Homo sapiens: one gene and its partners. The protein of the gene in region 2 purifies or fractionates together with the protein of the main gene of each other region. This does not show direct contact. Each region holds a gene or a part of one and is shown on either strand. Other genes may lie near its edges.

Evidence for each region. Proteins that work in one complex are often made in the same cells at the same time.
Region 1: the proteins of PHIP (region 2) and OPA1 purify together in Homo sapiens (affinity purification with mass spectrometry, with the first as the bait; one large-scale study listed by BioGRID). This does not show direct contact.
Region 3: the proteins of PHIP (region 2) and ASS1 purify together in Homo sapiens (affinity purification with mass spectrometry, with the first as the bait; one large-scale study listed by BioGRID). This does not show direct contact.
Region 4: the proteins of PHIP (region 2) and FOXP1 purify together in Homo sapiens (affinity purification with mass spectrometry, with the first as the bait; one large-scale study listed by BioGRID). This does not show direct contact.

Annotation. Positions count from the first base shown.
Region 1 is NC_000003.12:193,613,708-193,617,207, reverse strand, and holds part of OPA1 (dynamin-like GTPase OPA1, mitochondrial), read right to left. Parts: intron 2,486-3,500; coding exon 2,167-2,485; intron 1,535-2,166; coding exon 1,438-1,534; intron 31-1,437; coding exon 1-30. UniProt on the Homo sapiens protein: Dynamin-related GTPase that is essential for normal mitochondrial morphology by mediating fusion of the mitochondrial inner membranes, regulating cristae morphology and maintaining respiratory chain function.
Region 2 is NC_000006.12:79,075,455-79,079,422, forward strand, and holds the start of PHIP (PH-interacting protein), read right to left. Parts: upstream 2,801-3,968; 5' UTR 2,615-2,800; coding exon 2,575-2,614; intron 2,460-2,574; coding exon 2,401-2,459; intron 2,276-2,400; coding exon 2,246-2,275; intron 2,054-2,245; coding exon 1,994-2,053; intron 1,813-1,993; exon of another isoform or gene 1-1,812.
Region 3 is NC_000009.12:130,475,961-130,479,460, reverse strand, and holds part of ASS1 (argininosuccinate synthase), read right to left. Parts: intron 2,591-3,500; coding exon 2,500-2,590; intron 1-2,499. UniProt on the Homo sapiens protein: One of the enzymes of the urea cycle, the metabolic pathway transforming neurotoxic amonia produced by protein catabolism into inocuous urea in the liver of ureotelic animals.
Region 4 is NC_000003.12:70,975,229-70,978,728, reverse strand, and holds part of FOXP1 (forkhead box protein P1), read left to right. Parts: intron 1-699; coding exon 700-901; intron 902-1,006; coding exon 1,007-1,086; intron 1,087-1,686; coding exon 1,687-1,788; intron 1,789-3,500. UniProt on the Homo sapiens protein: Transcriptional repressor. Can act with CTBP1 to synergistically repress transcription but CTPBP1 is not essential. Plays an important role in the specification and differentiation of lung epithelium.

The sequences.
Region 1 (3,500 bases), on a different chromosome or scaffold from region 2:
CTGAACTAGGAAGGGCTTTTCTAATTTTCTCTGGAAAAGATCAAAACATATAGAGTATGAAACTAAGAAAATATGTCAGATACTATTCTTATAAAGGGCTAAAGTATTAACTTGTTTAATCCTCATGACAACCCTACAAAACAGCTACTATTATCAACACCATTTACAGATGAGAAACTAAGGTACACAGCAAGGAAGTGGAGGAGCCCGGGTTCCAGCCCAGGCAGTCCAGCTCCAGAATACAGGCTCTCAGCCACTACGCTGTGGTACTGGCAAATACATCAATTTGAAAGCTCTCCTCATTAATATTAGAAGAACAATTTGAAAGTGTGCTTTTTTTGCAAATGGATTCGTCAACATAGAACAGTTTTATCTTTATAAATTCTGTGAATAAGTGCAAGTATAGATTAATTCCACCTCCACATACACCTAAACTAAGAAATCTGACAAAGGTTTTAAAAAAATTTGATGAAAATATATTTCTTAAAGATCACCATGAATTACTGGCAATCATAGCGATCCAATATACTTTTTTCTCATCCACCTATTGAAAAAGGGAGGGCAGTGGCCAACTAAGAAAAGAAATTACCCTGGATACTAACAGACTTTTAAAGAACTTGGCTACAAAAGGTAGAGATAACCAAGGTATCCAATCAAAAGGAGCTAGCTAGGTGGGTCACAATAAATATGCTCTGGGCAACATTACATAATGCAGAAAATGATATTATTAATAGAAAGGCTACTTGGCAGCATGGAAATGCTGACAAAATATGTTAGGTAGCAAAAGACAAAATACCAAAGTGAATATTCACCATGATTACATAATTTTTAAAAAGGGAACTAAAATACTATTCTGTGGTAGTATTCATGAAAAGAAAAAAATTAAAAGAAAAAAACTCAAGCCAGGCATAGTGGCTCACACTTGTAATCTCAGTGCTTTGAGAGGCTGAGGTGAGAGGTTTGAGCTAAGGAATTTGAGACTAGCCTGGGCAACATAGTGAGACTTCATCTCTACAAGAAATTAAAAAATCAGTCGGGCATGGTGGCACACACATGTAGTCCCGGCTACTTGGGAGGCAGAGTCGGAAGGACTACTTTAGCCAGTTCAGGGCTGCAGTGAGTTATGATTCCAAGACCGCACTTCAGCCTGAGTGACAGAGCAAGATCCTGTCTCAATCGATAAGTTAAAAAGATACTAACCACATATAGTAAGTATAATTAAAAGAAAATGCTCCAAACAGTTAGTGGCAGCTGTGGTAAAATTATGGGCTACTGGGTATTTCTTTTATACAGATTTTTTCATTGATATTCTATTACTTATATCATTAAAATAAAACCGTGATATATTAGGTTCATAAGTTAAGAAACTATCTCAATAAACTATTTCTCTTTCCTCGAGATGACCAAAAAAAGTATTTTAATGTTCATGATACAAACCAAAATCGATATACTCATCAATTTCCCACACAATGTCAGGCACAATCCATTTATATTCACTAAGGTCCGGTATCATATCTTTCCACTGATCAAAAGTCTAAAAGACAAGAAAGTGTGTCAATCAGATGCTCTGCATGCCAAATAAACATGTAAAGAAAAATTATTTAATTAAAACACATTAATCTACTAAGAATAATGTATTATGTTCAAAACTTTTAAGAAACAAAATTAAGTGGTCTCAGCAAACAAGCATATAAAACAAGTTAACACTCCTCTGTTAAATATGGAAAATGTAAAAATTCAGAATATACTCCTATTTCAAACAGGTTTCATAATTTTGCCCTAAATATTACTGTGGGGTAGAAGGAAGACAGACTGGGAGACAGGACGCCTTGCCTCTGGTCCCAGACCTGCCAAGAAGTGCTTGTGTGAGAATGCCACCTGACTTTCACATCTGTGCTACTAAATGTCTAAGCTCAAAATCAAACCTAGGTGTTCCTATTCCCAGCCCTGTGCTCCTTCCACTAGGCCATTTTAATTTCCTGTAATTATAACTAAGATTCTAAAGGCATCTTCCTATTAGCATCATTAAAACAATCTAGTCCATGGTAGAGACACAAAATAAATGTTTAAACATCCAATTGTATTCCACTACACAAAAATGATTTATGCTATAGAAACTTAATCATGATATAATAATTGGAAAACCAGGAGGAATGTCAAGTTCACCTTTTTGGCTGTGTAGCCACCCCCAACAGCCGATCCTAGTATGAGATAGCGAAGTTTTAAGAGTCTCGTAGCTAATCTTGCTGGCCAAAAATTCCTGCGAGGCTGGTAGCCATATTTAATTGGAGAGAATTTCAGTTTACGTAAAGGAAGGTTTGTCAGAGAAGAGAACTGCTGAAAGGATGTCCTTAATTGGGGTCGTTGAAGCTTTAAGGTAGGATGATGTGAATGATAAATGCTTCGTGAAACCAGATGTAGTTTTTGTAGTGGTAAACTTCCTTTTATTCCAGAGCTGTGTTTCACTAAAGACTGGCAGACCTCACTGAAAGAAAAATGAATATGGAAGAAAGATCAGAGAGGGTAACAGTACAAAGGAAATGACATTAAAAGAGCAATATACTAAAGGAAACACAGCCCCATACGTGACTAACCACAATGTCACACAATAGTTCACATTTACTAACCATTGACTATGTGCCAGACATGGTTACAGTATGTGCTATCTCATTTAATCCTGCTAACAATCCCATGTAGAAAGTACTAGTATTATCCTCATTTTACAGATGAGGAAAATGTGGTGCAAAGACTTAAATAACTTGCCCAAAGTCACACTGACATAAGAAACAAAGGCATGATTCAAACCAAAGCAGTGGGACTCCACTCTAATATGTGGGCTATGATCCTGGTCTCAGGAATTGAAACCAAAGAGAGAAAAGGCAGGGACTTATTTTATTAACTACTATTCACTGTAAGTAAAAGTTGAAAACAAAAATGCATGCAAACTTTTGCTTTCAAAAACAAAATTTCTAGCAGTTTAGAACACCTTCATCTATGTCTCCCGATCCTGACAGCACAGGGGTGGAAATTAAGGAAGTTAATCAATCCCAACTCAAGCACCTGGATCCCCAGAAGAATGAAAGTAGCAAAAAAGCTCGAAAGGGAACAGAATTTAAATGTACACATTGACTGTAGAGCTCCACCCTCTTCTTCTTCCTGAAGAGAATGAAAGGTTACCAACAACCATATCTTAACATACACTCATAGTTGCATACATAGTTGCTTGCTTACTATTAGTTGCTTACTAATAATCAGGGCCAGTCTGATTCTAAGTAGTTAAAAAATATTAATTCCTTTAATTACAAGGGACTGGAAACTTCTTAAGAAGGAGGCAGGGTGTGGTGGCTCACACCTGTAATCCCAGCACTTTGGGAGGCTGAGGTGGGTGAATCACCTGAGGTCAGGAGTTCAAGACCAGCCTGGCCAACATGGTGAAACCCCATCCCTACTAAAAATACAAAAATTAGCTGAGTGTGTTGGTGTGTGCCTGTAATCCCAGC
Region 2 (3,968 bases):
ACTTCCATTCAAAATAGGTGAATTTTGAGCATAATACATAGATAGAAAGAATGCTTACTGTATCTTAAATCTGCGATGCAGACTAGGGATAGAAATTCACTTTACTAATAATTCCTCCCCCCACCCTCCCCCCAAAAATTAAATTAACTCAAAATCAAAATTGATAGCTCATTTTTACTGAAAAAAAAAACAAAAAAACAAAATGATATTCCTACGAGGATTAGCCATTACCATAATTTAGCCAGATAACATTAAGCTGCTTCATTTAAAAAATGTAACATTACCAAAAGATTAAGAAAATGCAGCATTCCTCAGTGACTTAAGGTTTGTGGGTTTTTAAGAGATGCACAGATGTAAAAGCAGATGCAAAGACGAGTTTTGTAAAACCTGCCCCATCTTAAAAATGGAGTATTATAATCTTTGCGATAATTTTTTCAAATATCAAGGAAGACATGTAAATTCACTGAAGACTTCTATCAAGTATTTGTAAACCTAAAAATTAATTTCAAATTAGTAAATCTTGGAGTTTACTTCCAGCTCCATTCACTTTGGCCAAGAATTGAATGAAAGTAACCCAAATCACTCCTTGAAAATTAACACACGTTCAGTGTGAAAATGAATACACTAATACACTGTTAAATCTCCATTAGATGTATTAAACCTCAGTACCCTTGCTTATTTCAACAGCCTTGAGCGGTTATCAACATCTTATATTAAACCACAAGAGATTTATACACAAAAGTTAGGAAATACACTACATACCAAAAAAAGCGCCATTATAATCATGTCCTGCTTTCACCTCACAAAAGACACTCATTCTAAGCTCGCTGAAACTTCCTAGTCATTAGAGAAGTTCTGATGAAGTAACATTAGTAATCATAACTATCTCAAAACAGTTACAAAAGCCTCATAAAATCAACACACTACATAAATTTCAAAGGCTTGGTGGGTCCGGTGCGACTGCTTTAACTGCCCCACACACATATTCACACAACGAACCTGTATCAGTTTAGGAGAAAGTGTTACAGAAAATATAGCTCCTTTAAAGTAACTTCCAATCACAATACTGAAGTGATAAATCCACTTCTGAAAAGCAATTTTTAAAGATTCCTAAAATACTCATTTTGACAACCCACAAAATTAAGGTTTTTAAGCTATTAAACAAAATATGTCCCAATATAAACACAACTTTCATAGGCCAAGTTCCATCCCACAGTAAATATGTGGACAAAAATCAAAACTCTTCAGTGTACTCCAATAATAATTTTTAATTAAACGAGAGGCATACCATAAGAATTAAAAAAAGCCTACTAAACTTCTGGTTTTAGGGAATTACAGGCTTTACACTTCTGCAAAGATGTGTTTTAGTAAATGCAAGACGAAGCACTGACCAACTATCATCACACATCAGAATCCTTCCAACAAAAAACCCAGGACTGAATTTAAGGAAAACAAAATAAACGACAGAGGGGGAAAAAATAATGTCTTGCCACGGTACCGCAGCGGCTGGATAGCCTGCTTGTGAAATGCTAATGCCACTTCGGAGCAGTTAGTCACCAGCTATTGTGTAGGGCAGGAGAAAGCCGAGCCGGCCGCGCGTGCAGAGCGAGCAAGCGAACGAGCGAGCGCGCTCTCCCTCTTCGCGCCGCTCCCGCCGCCGCCGACTCTCGCGCGCCCCCGCGCCCGCACGGACGCGCGCGCCGGCCCCTCCTCCTCCGGCCTTGCACTGCACAACACTCATGACGTATCTTTATTTCTAGCACATTAACAAAATATCACAAATAAATTGTCCGCAGCCCCTGCGGCCCCGAAGTACGAGTACCCCCGGCCACTGGCCCCCGCAGACCCCGCGCCGGCCTCCCAACCCTCCCCATGGCCTTTGGAGCTTTCACGTTCTAGGGCCAAGTTTTTGTCTCTGTAAAAAATTGCGGGAAATTCAATTTTTATTCGACTCAGGGAAAAGTTTCTTTGCTCTGCGACGTGAATGTCTCACCAGATTCTGGTAGGTCCTGGGATGCTCCTTCCCGGTCCAGTCGGTGCGCCGGGGCAGCAGCTGCGGGGAGAGGACACCCCGTGAGCCCGGCCCCCGGCCCCTACCCGCCCGCTCCCCTCCCCCGCCCGCCCCGCGCCCCGGCGGGGACCCCGAGCCCCGCGCCCCGCGCCCTGCCGGCGGCGGCAGCGGCGGCGCAGCGGCCCAGAGGCGGCCGCGCGGCGGCGGGACGCGCCGGGCCGCCGCCGCCCTTACCTCCTTCTCGGCCACCTCGCGGATCAGCACCTGCAACAACAAAGCGGGGAGAGCTGAGCCCCGCGCCCCGGGCCGCGGCCCCGCCGCCGCCGCCTCCCTCCCCCACGCCCGCGAGCGGCGAGCGCCGGCCCGGCCCGCGCCGCGCGCCGCCGTACCTGAGCCGCCTGCTGACAGGGTCCATCTTCCAGGAACCGGGCGATGAGGAAGTAGAGCTCTGCGCGGGAGAGAGGGACGGGGAGACACACAGGCTGAGCGGTCGGGCGGCGGGGGGCGGGGGACCGCGGGCGGAATCGCCCGGTGCCAGCGGCCCCGGCAGCCCCCCGACTTACCCGATCGCAGCTCCGAGAGGCCTTTCCTCTCACAAGACATGTTTATGGGTCACTTCAGGGCCGCCGACGGGACACCCCGCCGCCGAGGGGAAGCGGGGACGGTGCCGCCGCCTGCCCTATAGCTGTCAGTGTGTGTTCACGAGCCGAGCTTCGGCTCCACCATTCAAGCAACGGCGGCGGAGGCGGAGGAGGAGGAGGAGGAAACAACAACTCTCAGGCAGCGACTACGGCCGTGGCCGCCTCCGCCGCGGATCCCTCCGCCGCAGAAAGGAGTCCGCCGCCTTCGCGGCCCAGGGCTCGGCCCCGGCTCTGGCCCGCGCCCCCGCCCCCCGGCGCTAAAAAAGGAGTGCCTCCGACCCCTCGTCCCCAGCGCTCCGCACGCGGCACAGTGAGACCCCCACCCGCTCCTCCCCGCAGGGCGTGCGATTTATTTATTTATTTCCAGTCGGAGAAGATGTCGGAGCCCAAGCCGCCGGTTGGCTGGAAGGCGCTTTCTCTGTGGAGGCCGATAGTGGCAGGGAGGGGGCCGGGGACGGTTCCGCGGAGGGATCTGACGCACACGGAGCCGCAGCACAGGCTCTATTCAGCGGCGCTGGCTGGAGCTGAGATGGAAGTTAGTTTCTATGTAGCAGAAATATGAAACAAATGAAGCAAAACTGCCCAGAGAGGGGAAATGCCCCAAGGATGGGTCTCACTCACGCGCGTACACAGACACACACGCAGAGAGCACTCTCACGCTGGGCAAGCTCGGGATCGCGCTACCCTTCCCGAGTTGAATGATAGTGTTTGGTTTCTGTCTCTTGCCATGTGCATGTGTATAAATGCTGCGGATTGGCATCTGTGTAAGTCTTGTCCTGCGTTATTTCTGCAGCCTATGCAAGTGTTGTGTAATTTATTGGAGTGCTGTATATTGCAATAGAGGTTTGGGCTGCTTTTTGTTAAGCACTTGCGTTTTGCAAACCCGTTATTTGCTGAAGCCACCTCTGCATATTTCTTTTATTACTGCCATTGCCTTTGGCGTACGTTTTTTAAATGTTTTTTATTGTTAAACGGGCAAAGCGAACTCTTGATTTGTACTTCAGATACTCTTTTTCCTTATTACAAAAAGGCTAGTGATGGCTAATTAGGTATTTGGAATTAAAGAACCTTAAAGCTTTTTTAAGTGTTTACGAGAAGGGAGAATGTAAACCTGAGGGAAAGGAAAGGACGCTAATATTCATGTCTAACTGATCTGGAGGTAATTTAGTGACAGATCGATAACCTGCCTAAGGATATTGAAAGAGTATACTACAGTTTAGCCAAGGTGAATAGTGATTAAATAATTTAAATAATCTGTGTATCTTGCAGTTGACTTCGTCATGCTAATTAATGGCTTCTAATTTGAGATGTAAACC
Region 3 (3,500 bases), on a different chromosome or scaffold from region 2:
TTGCATTTAGGGGCTGTGAAATTGGAACCAGGCCCTGAACTAATTGAATTTCACGCTCCACCATTGTCTTACGCCGGGAGCACCTTCTGTCCCACCAGTCACCCGGGGGCCGCCTGGCCGAGGTGTGGCTGGGCTCAAGCACACACATACTCGCTCACACACACACACACACACACACAGCCCCCTGCCACGTCTGTCAGGCGGACCCCGCGCCCCGACCCTGTACCCCAGACCCACACGCAGCCATCTGATTGATGGGGGTGACACGGTGCCCGCTCCAGCAGGCGAGGTGTCGGCAGCGTCCCTGAATCCGAGGAGCTGGGTCCGGGGTGGCAGGAGGGAAGGGGTTGGGTGGGGGCAGTGGGTGGGTTCGGGGTTGACTTTGAATAGCAAGGGGCACTTTCTCGAGCGGTGTGAAATGAGCAATAAATGTATTGGGGCTAACAAGAGAGCTGAAACAGTGACAAAGAAAAGCTGTTCAAAGTTGGCGGCTAATCCCCCACCCATCTGCCCGGCTCATTACCATGGAGCGAGCCATCGGGTGCCAATCAGGCCTCAATAGCGGCTTTCGAGGCTTTATTAGCCAGGCGCCGCTTGGAGGGGCTTCACTCAAGGCGCTGTCAGCCTCGCCATTCTTAACCCCCATTTCCAGGGGTTTTATAACTTGGTTGTAAATTGCTATTAAATGTAAGTCTGCCCAATAATGAACCTTAAGCCCCTCTCACCACCCCCCGCCTCTCCTCTCTCCCTTTCTCTCCCTCCCCGGTCCTATTATCGGCCTTCGCTGGGGCCTTAGATGGGGCCTGCCCGGGAGAAGAGGTGACATTGTTGGTGCTGCTGCTGGAGAAAGCCTCTTAGCCTTTAAAATAGTTAATAATTAGATTAAAACTTCAAATAAATTAACTAGAGAGTGAATGGGCACTAGCCAGGGGAGGGTTCCTCCGGTCTTTTTTTCTTCTTCCAGACAGTCCCCAAATCATGACAATAGGTCACGTTTCTTCTCCAGCTCAGCCTGCGGAGCTGCCCTGGTCCTCGGGCAGGGCTGCCAGAGCCTGGTGCCCAGGACCCTCCGCAGCCTGCCACCCGCCTCCCACCCTCACGGCTCTCCAGGCTCCTGGGAGCCCTGTGCAGGGAGCCAGGAGGTGCTGCTGGGGCCACTCCCACCATCTTCTCAGAGATGATCCTAAAGGGAGGCTCTGTGCCTGCAAACAGGCCTGGGGGCCCGGCTGCCTTTGGGGTCCTCTTTGGCCCCCCAGTAGGTTGGGACAGATGAAGGGGAGCAAGGAAGACAGTCGCTGGCTTGGCCAAGCTCTTGGGAAAGGCCCAGAAGAGGCAGATTATTAAAGCACTTAGCCTCCGACACCCCATTCCACATACCATGCCGGGCACCTGTGAGCATCATGCCTGTGGTCCGTTTTTTGATGAGTGCACCCAAGGCCCAGCATGGTGAAGCTGGCTGTCAAGGTCACACCAGCAAGGGGGAGAGGGGGATCTGCAGCTCTGCCTCCCCACCGGCCTGAGGCTTCCCCACCCTATCCTCCTTTCTGTGGTAGCCGGGGTAAGAGCCGAGCGCCAGAGCCGGGCCAGGCCTCTCCACGAGCCTCTCTCCCTCTCATCCCAGCTCCAGTGTGGGCAGCCACTTTGTGGACGAATGGGCCAGCCCCCCGCCTGGTCCTTGGGTGCCCCTGTGCCCAGCACCACCTCCTCCAGGAAGCCTCCCTGATCACTCCAGCCTCCTGAAAAGGTACCCCTTCAGGCCCTCTGAGCCCGCCCTCTGAGCCCTCCCTCTGAGCCCAGGCGGGCATGCCTCGCTTCTCCATCCTTCCTCCAGGCCAAGAGATGCCCTCTCCCAAGCTCAGGCACCCAGGCACTCAGGCCAGGTCAGCAAACGCTTCTTGTTGACAGCAGTGAGAAGGAGGGAGCGATCAGGACAGCCTCCACTGCCGAGGGGAGCAAGAGTGGCCGCAGCTTTGAACGTGGGGTCAGCAGGGTGAGGCCCAGAGCGGCTCAATGAAGACTGGCGAAGGCTTTCCATGTGGGGTCCCAGGGGTCCATGAGGCCAGCTCGCCAACACTCACCGTTTACTGAGCACCTTCCGGGGTCAGGGCCCAGGGCTGGACGCTCCCTTGCAGGCCTCATTCTACCCCAGGAAAACAGCAGGCACTCTTTCATCCTCAGATACAGCTGAGGAAACTGAGGCCCAGGAAAGTTGAGTGGCTGTTCAGGGACTAGAGCGCTCTCATTCCAGACCTGGTGCCCATGAACCCGAGTGATGGGTAGCCGAGGGCATGTTCCTCCCAAGCCTAGAGGCATCCATGGTCCATGGGTTGTACTGTCCAGGGAGGTGGGCTGTGCGTTACCTTGAAGCCCCTGCCTGAACTCTAGCTTCCAGGAATGCAGGGCGGGGGTAAAGAGGGCCTAGGTTCCCAGGCAGGGAGGGGAAAGGAGCCAGGGCCCCAAAAGTCAACCCCCTTCGAGTCCCAACAGGTGGGCACATACCTTTTTTGAACTCGATCTCGAGAATGTCAGGGGTGTTGGGGGCTTTGGCTGGGTCCTGGGTCTTCGTGTAGAGACCTGGAGGCGCTTGGTTCTGAAAAAAGACAGAAAGTGGTGGGCAGATGACATACCAGTCCCTGGACACCCTACAGCCCACCTCCCGCGGGGATCTGCACCCCTCTCCTCTGTCCATTTCCCCACCAGCTGGTGGGGTCCGGCAGATCCCCCGGTCCCCAGCCCTCAGCCTAGCACCAGCCTCGCTTGCCAGAGGCCTGGGAAACAAAGGGCTGGAGAAATCAGACAATTTTTCCCCTCAACTTGATCTCATCTTTTTCTTCGACGCCCCCACAGCTGGAGGTAGAATAGCTGGAGAGGAACAAGTCAGGCAGGAAAAAGTGTGACTTTGGAGGAGCAAGGCGGCGTTCCGAGGGCTTCCCAGGAGCGGCACGCACGCTCTCGCCGGCTCGGGATTGGGGTTTATTCTGCACTGACCGCAAAGCTAATGACTGCCTGTGACCCCAGCAGGTGCTCTGGCAAGCCGAGCCGTCCCCAGGGTCCCCAAGGTTAATACTCACAGGGAGAAAAGAGAAGAGCAAAGCAAAAACCCATTTGAAAACACATCAACCTTTATGTATATTTTTTCTTGGGCGTGTTGGAAAATGGGCCTCTCGTCTGATGCAGTGGTGGAGGGGCTGCGTGTTGCCTGAAACTCTCGAAATTCCCTCCCACCTTCGGAGGCCCCAGCTCCCCCAGGCCGTGGCTTGGACATTTGCCACTGTGGGGACTGGGGCCTCTTGGGCCTGACTGCTCAGGTCCCTCCTGTGGGCATCCTGTGCCTGGGGTCCTTGTTCACCTGCTGACATCCAGGAACTGCTGTCTCATCTTTGCTTTAAAAACCTTGCAGACGGCTGGGCACAGTGGCTCACACCTGTAATCCTAGCACTTTGGGAGGCTGAGGTGGGTGGACTGCCTGAGCTCAGGAGTTCGACACCAGCCTGGGCAAC
Region 4 (3,500 bases), on a different chromosome or scaffold from region 2:
AACAAATGACAGCTGGTGGGGTCAGGCCCATTGTGTTTAATATGAGTAATAAATAGGCCACACATATTTGCAGGAGTTCTCGTCATCCACGAAGCTGCATGAGGGAGCTCAGTAGGCTCTTCCTGGGCTGTCTAGTATGGTAGCTACTAGCCACATGGGGCTCTTTCCATTTACATTTATTAAAGTTTAATTTTAATAAAAATCAAGTAAAAACAGCTCTTTGGTTGTGCTAGCATATTGCAGAAATTCTGCTGGACACTTCTTCAGATCTACACCAGCGTATCCCAACTGGTGTCACCTAAAATACTCAGCTTCACTGGTATTGCTAAGGACTTCTCTCCCTCTTTGAGGTTGACAAGGCCTGATGGGCGATCAAAGCCTATAGGTGAGACATCACAATGAAATAAATGTCTTGACTCAGGGTTTCTCACACTCCCTCAGGTAGGTAACCCCTTTTTGAGCCTGTAAACACCCATGTAGCAGCCTTTGGAAAAGAGACCGCTGCCAGAGATATCTTACACTGCATCCTAAGTGAATTCACGCAGGACTCACCGTGTGTTTCGGTTCATGGTAAACATACCATCTACATAGAGGAAGAAACGGTGCCCACGCATCCTCTGTGTTACTCCTGCTAGATGTGGTTCCTGGGTTGCTCTGGTTTTCTGAAGGTCTTCTAAGACGTTGTTTTTTTCCTTGCAGTTGAATCTGGTATCAAGTGTCACTCTCTCCAAGTCCGCATCGGAGGCTTCTCCACAGAGCTTACCTCATACTCCAACGACCCCAACCGCCCCCCTGACTCCCGTCACCCAAGGCCCCTCTGTCATCACAACCACCAGCATGCACACGGTGGGACCCATCCGCAGGCGGTACTCAGACAAATACAACGTGCCCATTTCGTCAGGTAGATACTCCACCTTTTGCCTCACGTAGAGTTGTAATCTGCAATTCTTGTAGACCAGCCCCTTTTGAAAAAGTGATAATTAATAGGACAATGATTCTTATTCAGCAGATATTGCGCAGAACCAAGAATTTTATAAGAACGCAGAAGTTAGACCACCATTTACATATGCATCTTTAATTAGGCAGGTAAGTAAATAACACAGTATATGAAATTCTGTCAGAAGGTATATGTGTACATGGATATATATTGATGAAGTAGATTTAAAAACCGTTTAGTATGCAAGCATGCTGAAACCTTTTCTATAAGGTTTTTTAAAACTGCAATATATAACATAATTGCTTTTGATTAAGTATTACAATACGATGTGATTATTAGGAAATTCATTTCACACAACAGTGAAAATGAGCCTGTTTAAAGATGGCAAGTCAATTATCACAAGCTACAGTAATCTCTGATCCCTAGAATTAATCTGAGCTCTAAATAATTACTGAGCTTTAATCAGCTAGTGAAATGTTTTGCATTTCTCTTTGATTCTGCTTTATGAATGACTAATAAATTAATATTTCTGTACGGAAACAGAAATAAAAACTCAAAACAATTAGATAATTCCATTTTGAATTTTGCTATTGAACTGTTAAATACAACCATTAATCTTAGATCATTTTGTAAAACCTTTCTCAGGATTTAGCTCTGAATCACAGTGATTTTATATTTTCGAGAAACTGTGGAATGACGACTCTGCTGATTTGGTCATAAATTATCTTCTGTTACATTCTGCTTCACAGGCCATTCTCGAATCTCCAGAAAAGCAGCTAACACTAAATGAGATCTATAACTGGTTCACACGAATGTTTGCTTACTTCCGACGCAACGCGGCCACGTGGAAGGTAAGCTTTCTCAGGCCTGTTTATTCTTGGATCTTGACGTTCATAGAACAGTTTGTTGTTGATAAAATGCAGTTGTGCTATAAGGAAGCTACATTTATATTGTTTTGATACTCTTAAAGTGTCCAATCTCTAGGTGTATTTGATTGGGAAAATAGTGCCATTGTGGTTGAAATGCTCTGATGGAAGACTCCCATTATACCAGCATCAGCAGTGTGGAGGGGCCAGCCAGTAAAGTGATCTCTCTCTGGTTGGAATATGTAGAGAAAAGGAGACAACACCGTCGCCCAGAAGTGGAGGTTGCCATATTACTTGCACAAACCTCATGCCGTTAGGTCTTCAGCCACAGCCGATATTTGCAGAGATGTATCTCCAGCGATCTATCTCCAGAGATGGAACCTGGAGAAATGACCAAACTTGACACAGCCTTCAATGGTTGGATAAATAGCTCATTAACCCAATTAGTAGAGAAAGCTGTGCAATCCAAGCACTAGCACTGTTTGTAGGAGTTATTAATGGAGAACACAATGTATTATTAAGGGGCAGGGGTTTTTGTTTTTCTTTTTTTGGTTTTAAGTCAAGAGATTGTCGGCCAGGCACAGTGGCTCATGCCTATAATCCCAGCACTTTGGGAGGCTAAGGCAAGAGGATCACTTGAGCTCAGGAGTTAGAGACCAGCCTGGGCAACGTAGCGAGACCCTGTCTCTACAAAAAAAATTCAATGAATTAGCCAGGCATGGTGGCATGCACCTGTGGTCAACAGCTACTCCAGAGGCAGAGGTGGGACGATTGCTTGAGGCAAGGAGGTTGAGGCTGCAGTGAGCCCTGTTCATGCCACTGCACTCCAGCCTGGGCAACAGAGCAAGACCCTGTCTCAAAAAAAAAAAAAAAAAAGGAGATTGTCCCTCATAGATATACTAAGGAAGAAAAGTAGATTTCGAACTTCATTATATTCATTATAATACTATTTGCTGTAAAAACAAGTCAAATTGCATAGCTCTTTATTGGATGCCCCCAGTAGTGCTTGGGGTCATATATGGCTTACCTCATTCCCAGGTCAGCAGCTGGCTCAAAGATTCCACTGGTATTTACTCCCTTATATTAGATTGATCCCTCACATATTTTTGGGCTTTCCCATTTTTGATTTCTTGGTGTCTAATATTCTTGCTTATAGAAGGGGACAGGTACACTCTGTCATTTGTATTTTTGCATTTTTTACTACCTGGAATTCTTGTAATCCCTGAAATCCAAAACATTTAGAGACATGTGATAACAAACATTTGAGGCTATTTTTACATGCCATTAATCTAAATATGATAAGGATGTGTTATAGGACACAAGGAAAACTTCCTTCGCCTGAAATAAATGCCTTCCTTGCTAATTCCTTAATTTTATACCGGAGAAAAACCAAAGCAAAAGACAGAAAAATACATTTCCTCTGTTAAGTTCCTGATAAATTAGCATTTTAAAAGAAAACGAATATAACCATAGAATTAATTCATCAACTTTACAGAGCTGTGAATATCCATTATGGCCCAAATTATCCTTTCATTTCCATTAAGACACATGGGCACTGAAGGGAACCTATGTTCAAAATCTTACCCTCTTTGCCTCAGCCTGCCTTGGAAGATAAAATATGAAAGGATCTTTAGCCATGAATGCTTTAAAAAATTTAGGAAGTCGAAGCATGAGGCAGACATTTTCTTCAGATTGCC